2 linked regions of the Homo sapiens genome follow. The protein of the gene in region 1 interacts with the protein of each later gene in a pairwise test. Each region holds a gene or a part of one and is shown in the gene's direction. Other genes may lie near its edges. The genes, in order: KDM3A and STAT1.

Region 1 (8,139 bases):
AAGCATATTCCAAATTTTCTGTTGCCAACTTTCTTAAGGCATTTGGGAACTTCTGATGTCCTCTGGAGCTAGGGTTGACACAGCAAGTTAGTGTCAGGATTTGACTGGAATATATACCCTGAAGCTTGGATAATTTTTACTAACCAGTGGAAGTTATTTCTGGCAATACCCAGTGGCTAAAATATATTTGTTGGCAGTTTCAATATCCTGCTGCTCAGTCCTCCATCTGTCTTCACCTCAGTGTATCCTTTGACCTTACTGCATGGTCTTCCAAGTTGAAACTCTTTTTGGCTTGCTTCCAGAATGTACCTCTCACCTGGTTCTCCTGCTGCTTCTAAGAGATCTCTTGGTCTTTTCAGTGCCCACTGCTGGTCCCTACATGAATGCCCTCCTCACCCTCCTTGGGGTCTGACATCCATGTCAAATCACTCTCCTACACACTCTCCTCCCCCTCCTCAGGCTCTGTTACTCATGCCAGGCTTTCTTCTCATGTAAACAGTCTCTTCACTCTGTTTGGGCTCCAACATACCACACTAGGCTGCCCCCATTCATGGATGCCCTCCTCACCTCACTTGGACTCTAGATAACCCAGGCTAGGTTAACCTTTTGTGTGTCTACCCTTCTCACCCCACTTGGGCTCTGACTGTCTATGCCCGGCTATTACTCCTTACTCTTTAGAGCTCTAACATCCCATGGCTGACAGCCTCTCCTTATTAACACCTATCTTGCTCTGCCCCTCCTAATGGCCTCAAGACTGAAATGTTTAGAAAGAGGAAAGGAAAGAGAAAAAAGTAGAAGAGAGGAGGGAATTTTAAAATATTTTATTGGATTTTAAAATATGTAGCATTTTGATCTACCTGGAACTTATTTTCGTGAATGTTGGTGTAGGAATCTTGGTTATATATACATTATATACTTTTTTTTTTTGAGACAGAGTCTTGCTTCGTCATCCAGGCTGGAGTGCAGTGGCGTGATCTCAGCTCACTGCAACCTCTGCTTCCTGGGTTTAAGGTTCAAGTGATTCTTCTGTCTCAGCCTCCCGAGTAGCTGGGATTGTGGATGTGCACCACAACAGCCAGCTAATTTTTACAGTAGCGATGAGGTCTCACCATGTTGGCCAGGCTGGTCTCAAACTCCTGACCTGAAGTGATCTGCCACCTCAGCTTCCCAAAATGCTGGGATTACAGGCATAAGTCACTGCGCCCGGCTTATATATACATTTTTAATGGATAATCAATAGACCTCAAAGCATGTATTGCATAGTTTATTCTTTACACCCACTAGAAATATGTCGATCACAAACTAATTTTTAATATACACTGGGTCTGTTTCTTTGTTCTCTTCATTACTTATATATTTATGTCTTGATGTTTTTATTTGTTGTTTTGTTAGAGGAGAAATGACATATTTATCAGATCATATCAAGAGACAGAATTTTTCATCTTCTTTATACATGTCAGCAAAGTCTAATTTTCTTCATATAGGTTGTGTTCATTTCATGTATTAATTTTTAGGGATTACATGTTTTATTATCATTAATGGTTTTTATTTTTCTACTGTATGTTCTAATTGATGCTTGCTAAGGAATAGGAATTCTTTTGATTTTCGTTTGTTGATCTTTTATTGCATTATCTTTTTGATTCTTGTTTTAATTCTAATAATTTGTCACTGATGCTTTTGATTTATCTACAAATGTTTTGGGCTTTTTCTTCCATTCCAATGTTTACATTGTATTATTTTTCTTGTCTTATTACATTAGCAATTAACCTCTATTGTAACTTGAATAGTAATGACAGCATTGGGCATCCTTATCTTGCTCCTGACTTTATTGGGAATTTTTCTAAAATTTCACAATTAAGTACAATGTTTAAGTATATTTCTGGTAGATATCCTTTATAGAGTTATAAAATTTTCTTTTCTTGATAGTTTGCTAAGAGTTTTTATAATGAATGAAAATGAAGTATATAAAATTTTTGGTGTATCTATTGAGATAATCATATGTATTTTCTCCTTTAATTTGTTAATGTAGCAGATTCCATTAATGAGAGTTAAAAATTAAATTTTAAAAGTAACATGTGAGTACATTTACCTTATAAAATGAGAGAATTACAGGGAGTGGGGAGATTGGGTAGATGTTGGTCAAAGGACACAAAATTTCAGTTAGACAGGAGGAATAAGTTCAAATGATCTAATGTACATCATGGTGACTACAGTTAATGACAATATATTGTATATTTGAAAATTGCTAAGAGTGGATTTTAAGTGTTCTCACCACACAAAAAAAGATGAGTATGTGAGGGAATGCATATGTAAAATAATTTGATATAGCCATTCCACAATGTATATCTATACCAAAACATCATATTGTACACCATATAGTTTTACCTGTCAATTAAAAATAAGGTGATAAAAATGTAAATACAAAAAAAGTGTATTTATAAAAAATTAGAATTACAAATAATATGTGTTGTCTTTGACTAATACCCCTAATTCTAGTGTGCACCCCCTAATACCAGTAACCATTACTGTAAGTTTTAATAACCATATTTAACAGAACATATATACTGTTGTTTTTGTATGTGTATTTTGAAATAGTACCAAATGCAAATTTCTTTTTCATTCATAATGTATTTTGGTAACTATTTTTATTGGAACATCTAGCTGCTTTGACTCCTTTACAAATCCTCTACAACTTTCCAATATATGCATTACATTCCATTTATTGTTAATAATTTTATTTATTCCTTCTCCAACTGGAGTACACTTAGGTTATTTGCAGATGTTTTTTCGTTCATATGTGTGTGGGTGTTTTTCTGTGGTACGTAACTTATATTCCTAGGTTTTTAGAAAGTTTAAAAACATTTTTTAAAAATTATGGGTGGTATTGAATATAAGTGTACACTTATAATCTTCTTAGTTTTCTATGTAATTTAAAAATACTCTTAAGATCACAAGTGTTCAATGTGACTGCATGCTCTATTTAGCCCTAAGGTGAATATACGATTTTTCTTTTTTAACCTGTCATGGTGAATTTTAGTAATTTTCTAATCTTGAAGTATCTTTGCATTCATATAACACTAATTAATCATATCAATTACCTAAAAAAAATGCTGCTGGATTTAATTTGCTGGTATTTTATAAAAGAATTTCCCATCTATGTTCCTAAGTATAATTGAACCATAGTTTTTCTTTCTTATACTCGCCCAGTTCAGAATTTGTGAAACGGTTTTATAACTTTTATAAAATGCATTGGATATCTTTCCATCTTTTCTAAGCTCTGAAATAATGAATTCAACATAGAAAGTATATGTTCCTTCAGGTTCAATAGAATTTTTCCCTTGAGTTGTTTTTCAAATTAATATTTAATTACATAATCTAAGTTCTCCATATCTTCCCTTATATTTTACATTTGAGTTGCATATTTCTGAGATATTTATGTCTTCTACTCTGAAAACAAATTGTCAAATTTGTAAAATTTCTCATCGTTCATAGCGTCACCTTAGGATAGGCCATGTTTTTAGATTCATAACAGTTCAGGAGACCATACTGTCTTCATGGACTTTATCTTTAATATAAAATCCTTTCTCTTTTGATACTTTTAATTGTATTAATATTGCTATACTGCTTTCATTTGGCTACCATTTGATTAAATATTTTAGCCCAGTATTTTCAAGCTTCCTGTTTTGTAAGCATTTGCTTATGGTCAATTTATAGCTGGATTGTCCTTTTATTCCCAACTGTCTTTTAAAACTTGTGAGTGAAATTAACCCATTTACATTTATTGTAAATACTGATGTTTGGACTTTTCACATGAAAAACATTTTTACCATATGTTCTGGTTTCTTTTGCTTATCTCGTTCCCATTTCTGCCTTCTTTCAGCTGGATAGGTTTTTTCTTCTCATTTAGCAGCCCCCTTCCTTTAAATGGTCTACAGATTATAAATCCAATTTAATTCTTGTTACTAACTTTAAAAACTTAAAATCACATTCAGAATATGTATATTGAAAATCAACATCCAGAGTTGATTTGCATCTATAATCCCTTATATGTTTCCAAACATTCTCTGATTATACGTTTCCACGCTTGTAAAATGGGAGGCATGAGTTCTTCTTAAGGATTAAATGTGATGTAATGTCAAACACTAGCCTTTATGAACATATCTTCAATTTCTTCATTCCATTTCTTTTTCATTCAATCAAAATACTTCAGGTCCAGAGCACACAATCACCTCTAAACTCCTTTGTCCTTCAAAGTCACCTTCTCTTTCATCTCTTCCATCATTCATTATGGCCTTCAACTACTTTAAATTTCTTTGTAAGTATCTGAATACCTTCTCAATCCCACTTTGGAGAAAAAAAAATCTCATTATACATTGTATTTAAAGGTCTCTTTTGCTCTAAATTTAATGAACGTCATTATCCAGTAACTCCACGCCTTTCTTCATTTATCCTTCAAAATGGCGGACTTTAGACGTTCCACGATCAGTACCACGTGCGCCTGCGCCTCCCGCAGCCATTTCGCCCAGCAGCCTAAGCTCGGCGAGGCGCCTGCGCACGAGCCTCCAGAGCACTATCGCTCCTCCCTCTAGCTGAGTACGCCTGAAACCGCACGTTCTCTTCCCTGCCCTCCCCCGCTAACCCTGCACCGCCCTCACCCTTTCCTGTGAGATTCTTCCGCCAAGTGGAAGGCTCATCTTCGGTCGACAGCCTACGCGGTTGAAGAACAATCCAGTAGGCACTTATAGCTCAGGGTCTCGCCATTCAGTCTTATCTATGCGCCACAGCAATTTTCCTCCGGGCCCCAAAGTTGATAACCGATTTCGCGGGACTTTTTTTTTGCATACTGTGAGGCAACAAATGGAAAGAATAGGCCTATGGCGGAGGGATCACTCGCTTATTCTCTGTGTACTTTAACCTAATGGGGGTCGCCCGGGAGTCGGAAGGGGGAGGGGAAAGGGAGGAGGCAGCCAAGGAATTGTTTTTTTCTCTGGCCCCGCCCTCGCCCGGGGGGCCAATGGTGATGATCTGTTTCCCCCGGAGCCTCGCCCAGCTCCTGTGTTTCAGCCAATGAGCGGCGGAAGCGGCTCCGAGGGGGGCGGGTCCGGGAGGCTGTGCGTGTCTTGTGAGAGCTCTTGAACCAAGTCAGCGCTGGAGTCGGCTAGGCGGCTGGAAACGGCGGCTGCCGCCGGTGACTCAGGGAGGCGGGAGGCGGGGTAAGAGCGCCGCGGCCTCGGCTGCGGGGAGAGGGGAGAGAAAGGTGAAAGCGCCGAGCGCGCGGCCCCGTCGCCCGTTGGCAGCGGCGCAGGCCCGGGAGACGGGCGCCCGGGGTTCGGGGCCGGGGAGCTGGGCGCCGGGGCGGGGCGGCGGGGCAAGTGCGGAATCGCGGGCTCGCCCACCCTCCCCCGTGGGGCCGCCCGGGGCGGGGACCCAGCCGCCCGGGACCGGCTCTCTGCACCAGGGGCCTTTTCTTTTCGGGGCTGGGGGCTGAGCACTTTCAAATCCACTCGAGCCGCAGATAATTTTTCCCTCACTCCCTCTGCGGTTGCGTTTGAGCTGTTAGAAAAGCCAAACTTGGGAGAGCGAGGGTCACGCGGCGCTGGGGCCCGGGTGTGTGGCGGGGGAGGGCGGCGGGGGGCGGGAGGGCGCAGGAGGGGGGCTCGGTGCGGGTCCGCCCGGGGCCGCGTCCTCGCGCGGGTTCGGCGCCCTCCGCCCGCCCTCCCTGCTGTCTCCGCCCGGCCCCCTCCCACCGGCCGCCCCCGTCGCATTTTGTTTTTGTGTTTTTGCAGGGAGGAGCTCTTCCTGCAGGCGTGGAAACCATGGTGCTCACGCTCGGAGAAAGTTGGCCGGTATTGGTGGGGAGGAGGTTTCTCAGTCTGTCCGCAGCCGACGGCAGCGATGGCAGCCACGACAGCTGGGACGTGGAGCGCGTCGCCGAGTGGCCCTGGCTCTCCGGGACCATTCGAGCTGTTTCCCACACCGACGTTACCAAGAAGGATCTGAAGGTACAGGCGGCTCCGGGCCTCTGCCACCGGACGTTTCGCAGTTACCGTGGTAACGCGACCATCGGTTCCCTCCTTCCGTTTTCTGAAAACGGAGACCAGAAAGTTGGCATATGATCTGAAGGTGCAGGAAGCTAGATCTTGAAAGTCTTTGGAATGGTTGTATAGAGCCGAGTTGTGTTTGGCCCACAGCTCCTGGCTGCCTGGCTTTAATAATGGGCTTAGGGTTGTTCAGACACGCTTCATTAATGCCGGTGCTGTGTCCCACCAGGACTGTCTCATCTTTACTGCAGAGGAGGAGGAGTATTTTTGTTAGCGTTAGGTAGGGCCTGTAAGTGACGTTTGGAGTCATTAAGAATTGAAGGTTAGTGCTTGGAAGTACTTTCAGCTGGTTTTGTTTGTTTGTTCCTGTTAATTTATTCACTCAACTTTTAAAAAAACTTTCAGACTTGTTAAAAATGAAGTGAGTGTAGAGGGAGGAGCTTAAGTTCTGTTTGGCGTATTAGGATGGGTGTTTGTCCGTATATGGTGGGTCAGGGCAGGAGTGGGTTCCTGGTTGTCTGTGATGAGCCGGTGGGTGGGTGTGGGATATGACCATATATGGAGGGATGGGGTGGAGCTGTCCCATATATGGCATATTGGAGGACTGGCTTAGAAATACTGCACTTGGACGCATGAGGGGAGGGAGAGAATTGGGAACAAGTGCGGCCAGTGATTTTTTTTTAAATCATTATGACACTCAGAACCTTTTTCTGTTAGATCTTTTCAAAGACAGATGAATTCTGATTGTGCTCCCTAATAGAAGTATTGATGTGAAAGGATTGTCTGGGAACAAGCAGTGAGGAAGCCATTGTACCAACAAAGACTCCTTTGTGCGAAAATAACTGAAAAAAGGTTCCTAACAAAGACTCCAAAGTGGTGATAACTTGAAGGAAGCTTGTCAGAACAGAAGATATTTCCACCCTGCCTAGTAGATGTGTTTCAGAATCTTCACTTGGCCATCATCTTTGCTTTTTCTTAAACTATGTTCAAATAAAGGCAGCAAGTTTTAGCATTGGCAGTTGATTATATGTTGATTTCTGAAACACTGTTCATTTGAACACTTTCAGGGTGACAGTGTATGCCCAAACTGGTATTTATCTGCAAAGAGTTGTAGGAAAGGGGTATGCTGTTAGGCATGTTTTAAAGCTTCAGTGTTGTGCCTTGTCTCTTGTTGAAAAGGAGGAGTGACCGAAGAGCATTTAACCATGTGGCAAGCACTTCACAACTATGATCTCGTTTAATCCTTACAGCAGTTCTTGGGGGTAGGTACTAATATTGCCCCCATTTTATGGATGAAACTACTGTGCCTGAGGGACGTTAAGCATCTTGCCAAGGACACATACGTAGGAATTGACATAGCCTGTATTCTGTCAAACCCAGGAAGTTTTACTCCAGAAGCTGCCCTCTTAACCATCAGGCCAGTGATCAAGAGCTATGCCACAGCAGAGCTCCTGTCATAGGCTGTGAGGTTTGGTTTTTTCCTGCATTCGGCTCATTCTCCTGCCAAATCAGGTTTTGATGTTTATAGAGATAATATATTGTGGTGCAAGAATGGCCAACCTTTTTGCTTTGGGCTTATAACCTTTCTGTAAGCTGGGCTTTGTGTACTAGATTTCAGTCGTGCTTGTTGTGGTTTATTTCGCCTGCCAAATAAAATTTTCTCTAGTGCATTTGTTTTTATGTGATTTGAATGGAAACAAGATTTTATTTAAACTTTCCAGTCTTTAGTTCTTTGGCAGATGTTGAGAGACTAGGCGTTCCCTTCCCTTCTGTAGCAGCAATTGAGGACCTGTTGGGTTAGGCAGGCAATCTAGGAGGAACTTCACATGTATATATTTTTTAAATCTCCTCCCTCCGCCCCCATCCTTTGAGGAGGTGGTGATATCTTCATTTTCAGAATGAGGAAATAGATTTAGGAAAAGGAATCTTGTCCAGATTTGCATAATTAGCTGCGGAGGGAGGCTGCGAATCCAGATTGGGCCCAGTGTCTTCTCCACTGCACTTTGGTGCCTAACCTGAAGACAACTGGGAATTCATGTCAAAAACAATTTTGGCTAGGTTGGATTTTTGCCTTACTTGTACACATCACAACTCAACC
Region 2 (7,273 bases), about 100 Mb from region 1:
GGTAAGCTAGGGCAGTCAGTGATTCCATACCACTTTATTGTTATTATTTTTAAAATGTATACATCTACTAAACAAGCATGCTCCATTCTTAGAGTGTGGATACTCACTGTTAATTAATTACAGTCATTTATAATTATTCAAAGTACTTATGTTTTTTAAAGTCACCAGGAACACTTAACTAGCAAATAATGAATTGTTGCTCCTAAGGGAACTACGAGGCTAGGTTCCTTCAAGCCTCTGGTCACAACATTTTTGTCAACCCATCAATGCATAACATTGTTTATGTGTGTTTCTGTTTAAAGACACCTTATCTAATACACTTGTTGAGGCATTAACATTACACCTATAGCTAGGATCACTGTAACTCATGCCTGAGTGAAGCTTGCCTCACACATGTATTTTCTCCATAAGGCACATCCCAGCCTTCCCATGCTTAGGAACAGTAGACCACACTGTGGTACTATGCTCGGGCACCATTTTAAACAGGGATCACCAACAGCAGTCACAAAATGCAAAAAACATGGCGCTAAATAGGCTTCAAAAAGGACACGTTTTTCTTATGAGAGGTGAAACAGGAAGCGAGTGTCATTTTGTTTGGCTTCAGTTGGAAGCGTGTTAAGAGACTCGAATTCTTTGCTGCTGTGTGCTGCTGTGTGTGCACGGGTGTGTCTTCAAATGACCCCAAAGATGCCATGTATTTAGATTTTGGAGTTACAAGTAAATTTTAGTGAGTAAACAAGTTCACAAATGTGCATCTGTAAATAATGAAAATTGACTGTATTTCTCTTCCCCTACTGTGAAAGCACCTGTGTGTCATATAAACTAGAATTGAACTTTGGGATGGACATATGTTTTAGTGCCACACTTGTGACTGGTGTCTCTGTAGTAACCCTTAGATTTTGGGTGTTTTCTCTCTAGAATCTGTCCTTCTTCCTGACTCCACCATGTGCACGATGGGCTCAGCTTTCAGAAGTGCTGAGTTGGCAGTTTTCTTCTGTCACCAAAAGAGGTCTCAATGTGGACCAGCTGAACATGTTGGGAGAGAAGCTTCTTGGTATATGCATATTAACTTGTTATGTTTATAAAAATTGAAATTCATAAAAATATCTCTCTAATTGCTCTTTTCCCCTCTGCTATTTTGTTAAAGGTAAAAAAGTACTAAAATCTGTCAGCTTTTCAAGCTATAGTTTATTATAGCTAAGTGAGAATCATATGTCACCTTAGAAAGAAATATAGACCTGATAACATTTAAATGAATCCGTTCCTCATTGTCTCATATTAAGATTTCTGAGATGAATTCCCAAGGGAAAGTTTTATGAATTATGTAAAATATATTATTTGTGGCTGAAATAAGTTCCTGGATGAGAAAGATGAAGGCCTATTAACCATTAACCTTGGGGAGAAAAAAGGAAGTCCCTGACATGATGAGAAATAAAGTCCTGGGGCTTGCCCACTGCAGCATAAACCCAGGGCCCTTGCCTCAGGTGGGGCCCAGGTAGCAGAGGATGCCGTCCCCACAAGAGGATGCCTCTTTTGATCTGCAGTTTTGCCTGATTGGACAGAGTCTAGACAGTGGTAGATAATTCCCTTTCAGTGGTTAATGTCAGTGCATTTATTAGTCCTTCATACTAAACAAATCAAAGATCCACTAGTCTCAAGGTCAGATCTTTCAGTGAGTGAGGCTATCTGAACTATTTCTTTAAAAATCCGTGGACAACTTGTATCCAGATTTGCTTTCTGTAGAGCAGCACTGCATTTACTCCAAACAGCAGTAGGCTCTTCCTAACTCAGTGACTTTCAACAGTGCCTTCTTCTCTTGGATATGCAGCTGTCACAGTGGTGGTCTTGTGCTGTTTAATACAAGTACAAAATCCCCTTATTCCATTTCTTTATTTGGTGAGAGTTAAGAAGGATATCTTTTCTAGCTGTAATGGCTCATTTGTAGTTCTCTTTGAAGACCGATAATGGGCTTACCGCCTCTTCTCGCCCAGGCTGCTTTAATTTGTGTAGCTAATAACCCCGGGCTTCTTCCTCTCGTTTCTCTCACTTGGTTTTTGATTTGCATCAGACTGCCTGAGCCCATGTCCTATTTGGAGGAAAGCTGAGGGAAATGCATAAATAATGTCTAAAATAAACTTGTAAAGTCAAGTATCAGTTACATTGAAGATCTAGGGGTGATCTTGGGCACCTAGGTTGAACTTTGAAAAAAATTCTGTAGGATCCTTGGGAGAGGGGGCTCTGCTGAGCAGCAGAGGAAGGCAGTGGGAAGAGGCACTGGATAGGGAGGCTTCTCTAGGAGGCCCAGCAGAACACCTTTGATTTAGTGCAAAAGGCAAAGTCAGCTGATGGTCTTGGAAGGAAGTGTAACATGAAGAGGCATTAAAAGGACTGTCCTCTCTTTAGAGGAGGGAGGGAAAAGGGGGGCTGGGGAGGGAGAGAGCAGATGGTAAGGCTTTGTGATGTTTCCGCTTTCCCTAAAAACTCTCATATCGTGGTGCCCAGGAATCTGCCATCCATTCCTTTCTGCCATTAAACTCAAACCAACATATACATATTTTAGACCATTTAAATTCCGCCCTCTTACAGCACGTATTATAATTGCTCAGTTAATTTGGCATTAAGGTATCCGAAAATGTCAACTGTGTACATACAATCTTTGTTGGGTGTTTGGCTCTTTTCCTTGAGAGCAAATACAAGAGCCATCCGTCCAACCAAAGCTTTAGAATCAGTTTCTGTTTGCTGAAAAATCTGGTTTTTATTTGTTTAGGTCCTAACGCCAGCCCCGATGGTCTCATTCCGTGGACGAGGTTTTGTAAGGTGAGGACTGTCTGGGTTTTATGCTCTCTAAGTCCTTTTTGCTCTTGGTTGAGGTTCTCATGTTTCTTGCTGTGATAGTTACTTAACTGTTTGCTTATTTTGGCGTGTTCTTCTCTGGCCAAGGAGCCCCTCGGGCAAGTTGTTTACTTTTCTTCAGTGCAGGAGGTTGGTCTCCGAGCAGGAGTCTGACAGGAAGCACCTGCCTGAGTGATAACATTCTTTCATATCTGAAATGAGGCTTCTGTTCACTCACGCTGGACCCCTGCCCAGCAGTGTTTTAGCCATTTCTGTGTGAAATGTATGTTGTGGGCTGGGTGGCGCAGCCTGACCAGCCAGACGAGTTTAACGGCCTGCTCGAGCAGAGGGGCCCACTGCGGGGAACATTTAGATTCTGCTGGAGTCACCAGACAGTGCGGACCAGCTTGCACTGCTGGATTTTGCTAGTGTGGGGCAGCTTGTGTTTCCGTGAGTCACGCTGGAGGTCACCCCCAGGCTAGCTTGCTACTGTTTGGAAAGGGAAGCAGAGCCCGGCCCAGGGAAGTGGAGAGCTCTGGAGAGCTCCTGGTCTGAATGCTGATAAGAGCGGGGAGGGAACTTGATATTCCCTGCCAGGGGAGGGATCCCATTGCTGTGCTGAATGGGACAGTTCCATCCTTGGCACCTGGGGAGTCTTTGCAAATGATGGTGGGAGGGGCCATGGTAAGTCATTGTTTTAGATTTTTGTTCATAATGTCTGCATTTGTATACTTTCAGGAAAATATAAATGATAAAAATTTTCCCTTCTGGCTTTGGATTGAAAGCATCCTAGAACTCATTAAAAAACACCTGCTCCCTCTCTGGAATGATGGGTAAGGGCCACCGATAGATGTATTTTGAAACATATTTTTAGTGCTGCGAGGTTGAGACAAGGCCTGAGTCCAGCTTCAGTATTTGACTAGGCGTGTGTGAATCTCACAGGAGTGCGCATTTATAGGCTGCCCCTTCAGGGCTTCAGAAGAGTAGAACCTCATAACATTAACCTTACACTTTCTTAGTACAAGTATATGTATTGGCAAAGCTAAATTAAAAAAAAAAAACAACTCTTGAGTGCCATTCATGCATTCATTCACTCAACAAAAATTTTTTGAGCACCTACTATGTGGCCCCTAGGAAGGAAGAAAAACCCTTTTAACTGGGTAAATCATTTCTATCTTGACTTATTGCCAGGATCGGCTGATATTTCAACAGAAGCTTTAACTTGATCAGAAGGGCTAAAATATGAAAATATATTGCCTAGGTCTTCCTCTCCAGTAAAAAAGATGTATACATTCAGACATTGTTATGGCCTTTAAAATAATAAAGGAACAATAAAAGGCTCATTAATCCCACACGTGTTATTGAGCATCTGTAGCATCCTACTGACACCATGTTCATATCGCTTTTTTTAAAACCTTAGTATATACATGTATAAGTGAAATGCTTCCTTAAGTGTCAACTGAACAGATTTTAAAATAGTCTACGTTTTTTACCGTAGGTTTTTTTTCTCACATTCCAGCCATTTTCTTGGTTTGTAAGTTAGCATGAAAATGGAAATCATGATTGAACTAAAAGCCCATCCGTCCATCTCTTCGATATCCAGGTGCATCATGGGCTTCATCAGCAAGGAGCGAGAGCGTGCCCTGTTGAAGGACCAGCAGCCGGGGACCTTCCTGCTGCGGTTCAGTGAGAGCTCCCGGGAAGGGGCCATCACATTCACATGGGTGGAGCGGTCCCAGAACGGAGGCGGTGAGTGGGAGTTTGAGCACATAGTCCCACCATTCCATGTGTGTGAAGTCCCTCTTCATCGCCGCCAGTCAGCTCATACAGATAGTGCGTTTGGGACATGAAATTGCAGATCTTATACTTACCCCAAATGAGCCCCCGATAGGATTTAATAAACCACCACAAATGTTTGTGGTTGTGGTTCACTCTCTGGAACATATTGTGGAAATGATGGTTTTGAAAAGACAATGCCAATTCTTTCCTTTGCATCAGGTTTGTTATCTGCAGATCAAGGATGTGAGTCAATGTAATCTGCAACCCGTTCTTGGAAGGAATCACATTTCCCACAGGAGTAAGCATCCACATTCTCTTAGGGTCATCCCAGAGTAGAGTGTGCAGATGAGACAGGCTTCGGGAGAAGACTTCATACACATCATCAGCCAGGGAGTTGATGCAGGACCTGTTGGGACGAGTGGCAGCCTCTACCCTGCCTTCAAACAGAGCAGCTGCAAATTTATCTTTATCATATATGGGGTTTCTATTTAATCAAATGAGTCCATGGCTAAAAGACTCCAGAAACCTTGGTGTTATGAAGCAGGTTTCTGAGGGTGAAGCTCAACAGCGTAAATGAAAAAATCATAAAGACCAACTGATTACTTTTCACTGTTGTTTAGAGTTTGGTCTGTTTGAAGGGCAGGAGGAAAAACTGATTTGTTTTAGTAATTTTTATACTTTCAGTGGGTAGACACAAAATGGAATACTCTTCTTGTTCTATTTATTTTTCTGAAATATTCCTCTTCTCCTGTTTTTCTGGAATACTCTTATTCTATTTGTTTTTCTGCCATACTCTTCTTGTTCTGTTTGTTTTTCTGGAATACTCTTCTATTTTTTTTTTCTGGAACGGTATTCTTTCTTGTTCTGTTTATTTTTCAGGAATACTCTTCTTGTTCTATTTGTTTTTCTGGAATACTTTTCTTGTTCTATTTTTCTTCTGAGGAAAAAGCAGGGAGGCTGAGATGAGAGTCTGGCGTGGGCAGTAGTCATTAGAACCTGCCCTTTTCCTCTTATCCTGTTCCCTTCCTGAACCAGCTGAGAGACAGATATAGTAGACCAAGCAGAGATGAAGAAAACCCTTGGCAACCAGGAAAGGTCAAGCAGGACACTACCAGCCAGGAAGGGTTAGGATGGCAGCATAGTCTCATGTTCCACAGCAGGCTCCCCAGAACACCTGAACCGTGGCCTCTGGAAGGTCGACACCCAAAGGGAGATTCTGTATCAGCTAGGAAGAAGGATCTGAATTCAGTCTGGGAATAAGAACGGGAGTAAATTAAACCATGGTTTATTACGTTAAGGGTTACAGGGAAATGTAGCAAATAGGATCATTTTTAATTTGAAATGTTGTTTTCTATATATCATAATTTATTTTAATAAAAAATTAGATTTTTCAATATGAAAAGAAAAACAAAGTGAGTTTATCTCTAGTAATTTAAATCTGTGGCTTAAGCCAAGATGATCCACTTAGTAGTAAGTTATTTATGTGCCTATGGGCAGCACATCATTGAAGATGCAGGCTTTTAAAGGTTTTTAATAAATCTTTTTTGCCCAGATTTATAAATCTAAGCAAATAATGGCAAATAGAATGTTATTGAGAATAATACCTCCCTTTATTTTCCCTGAGACAGTATTATAATTTATTTAGAAATAAAGCAGTCTACTGTATATGTTATAATGCTTAGATTGTGATTAGTTCTTATGAGGTTCACTCAAATCCATCAACTCTGCAGTGTTTTATTTCTCTGTCCTCTTTCATTTTGGGATGTTCTATGGGATTTACTTAGCTTTTCTCCTTTTTAGAACCTGACTTCCATGCGGTTGAACCCTACACGAAGAAAGAACTTTCTGCTGTTACTTTCCCTGACATCATTCGCAATTACAAAGTCATGGCTGCTGAGAATATTCCTGAGAATCCCCTGAAGTATCTGTATCCAAATATTGACAAAGACCATGCCTTTGGAAAGTATTACTCCAGGCCAAAGGAAGGTAAGTGGGGCAAGCAGGTGGTAACAGCGTGGCACAGTCTTTCCTGATGAGGGGGTGATTATTCTGAAACTCCACCCATGCAGTGTTTTGCTTTCGAATTGGTAAGAGTAGGCTTTCAAAAGATGGCATAAACTCAGTGCAGGTGAAACATAATGCATTATTTGGCCTGATACAGCTAGTAAGAAATGAATGGACAATTTCCTATTTTAGGAATGTTGGAAAAGTCCATTGCTGGTCTTGTGTATTTGTTACTATCACTGTTTCCACATGAAAAGGGTTTAAATAAGGAACTGTGGTAAACCAACAGAAGGCATCTTGCTCACGTTAAAGTTGAGGAAACTGAGGCCTGGGAGAAGTGAAGTGGTTCATTTAGGGTGGCCCAATTACTTACTAGATCCTATTTTTATTAGATAATTATTAAGAGGAGGCCTCATCTGAGAACACAGGTCTCTTGCTTCTCAGTTGTCAATGAATTGCATTTGAGAAGGTTCGAATTAGACCTGTTTTGTTTGGAACACACCAACAAAGCTGTTTTTCAGAATCAGAAATCTCAATATTAGGACAATTACTTTGGAATGAAGATGTCCCCAGCTTACCTTGACAGCTGTGAATATTCATTAGCCAGGCTAATGCCAATAAACTGGATAGAACTTTGCATATTTTGGGCTCAGACTTC

Evidence for each region.
Region 2: the proteins of KDM3A (region 1) and STAT1 interact in binary tests that used the Homo sapiens proteins (3 or more experiments, as listed by UniProt).

The regions. Positions count from the first base shown.
Region 1 is NC_000002.12:86,436,232-86,444,370, forward strand, and holds the start of KDM3A (lysine-specific demethylase 3A), read left to right. Parts: upstream 1-5,139; 5' UTR 5,140-5,213; intron 5,214-5,229; exon of another isoform or gene 5,230-5,327; intron 5,328-5,438; exon of another isoform or gene 5,439-5,607; intron 5,608-5,786; 5' UTR 5,787-5,816; coding exon 5,817-6,002; intron 6,003-8,139. UniProt on the Homo sapiens protein: Histone demethylase that specifically demethylates 'Lys-9' of histone H3, thereby playing a central role in histone code.
Region 2 is NC_000002.12:190,976,164-190,983,436, reverse strand, and holds part of STAT1 (signal transducer and activator of transcription 1-alpha/beta), read left to right. Parts: intron 1-918; coding exon 919-1,054; intron 1,055-2,767; coding exon 2,768-2,817; intron 2,818-3,570; coding exon 3,571-3,665; intron 3,666-4,435; coding exon 4,436-4,581; intron 4,582-6,411; coding exon 6,412-6,597; intron 6,598-7,273. UniProt on the Homo sapiens protein: Signal transducer and transcription activator that mediates cellular responses to interferons (IFNs), cytokine KITLG/SCF and other cytokines and other growth factors.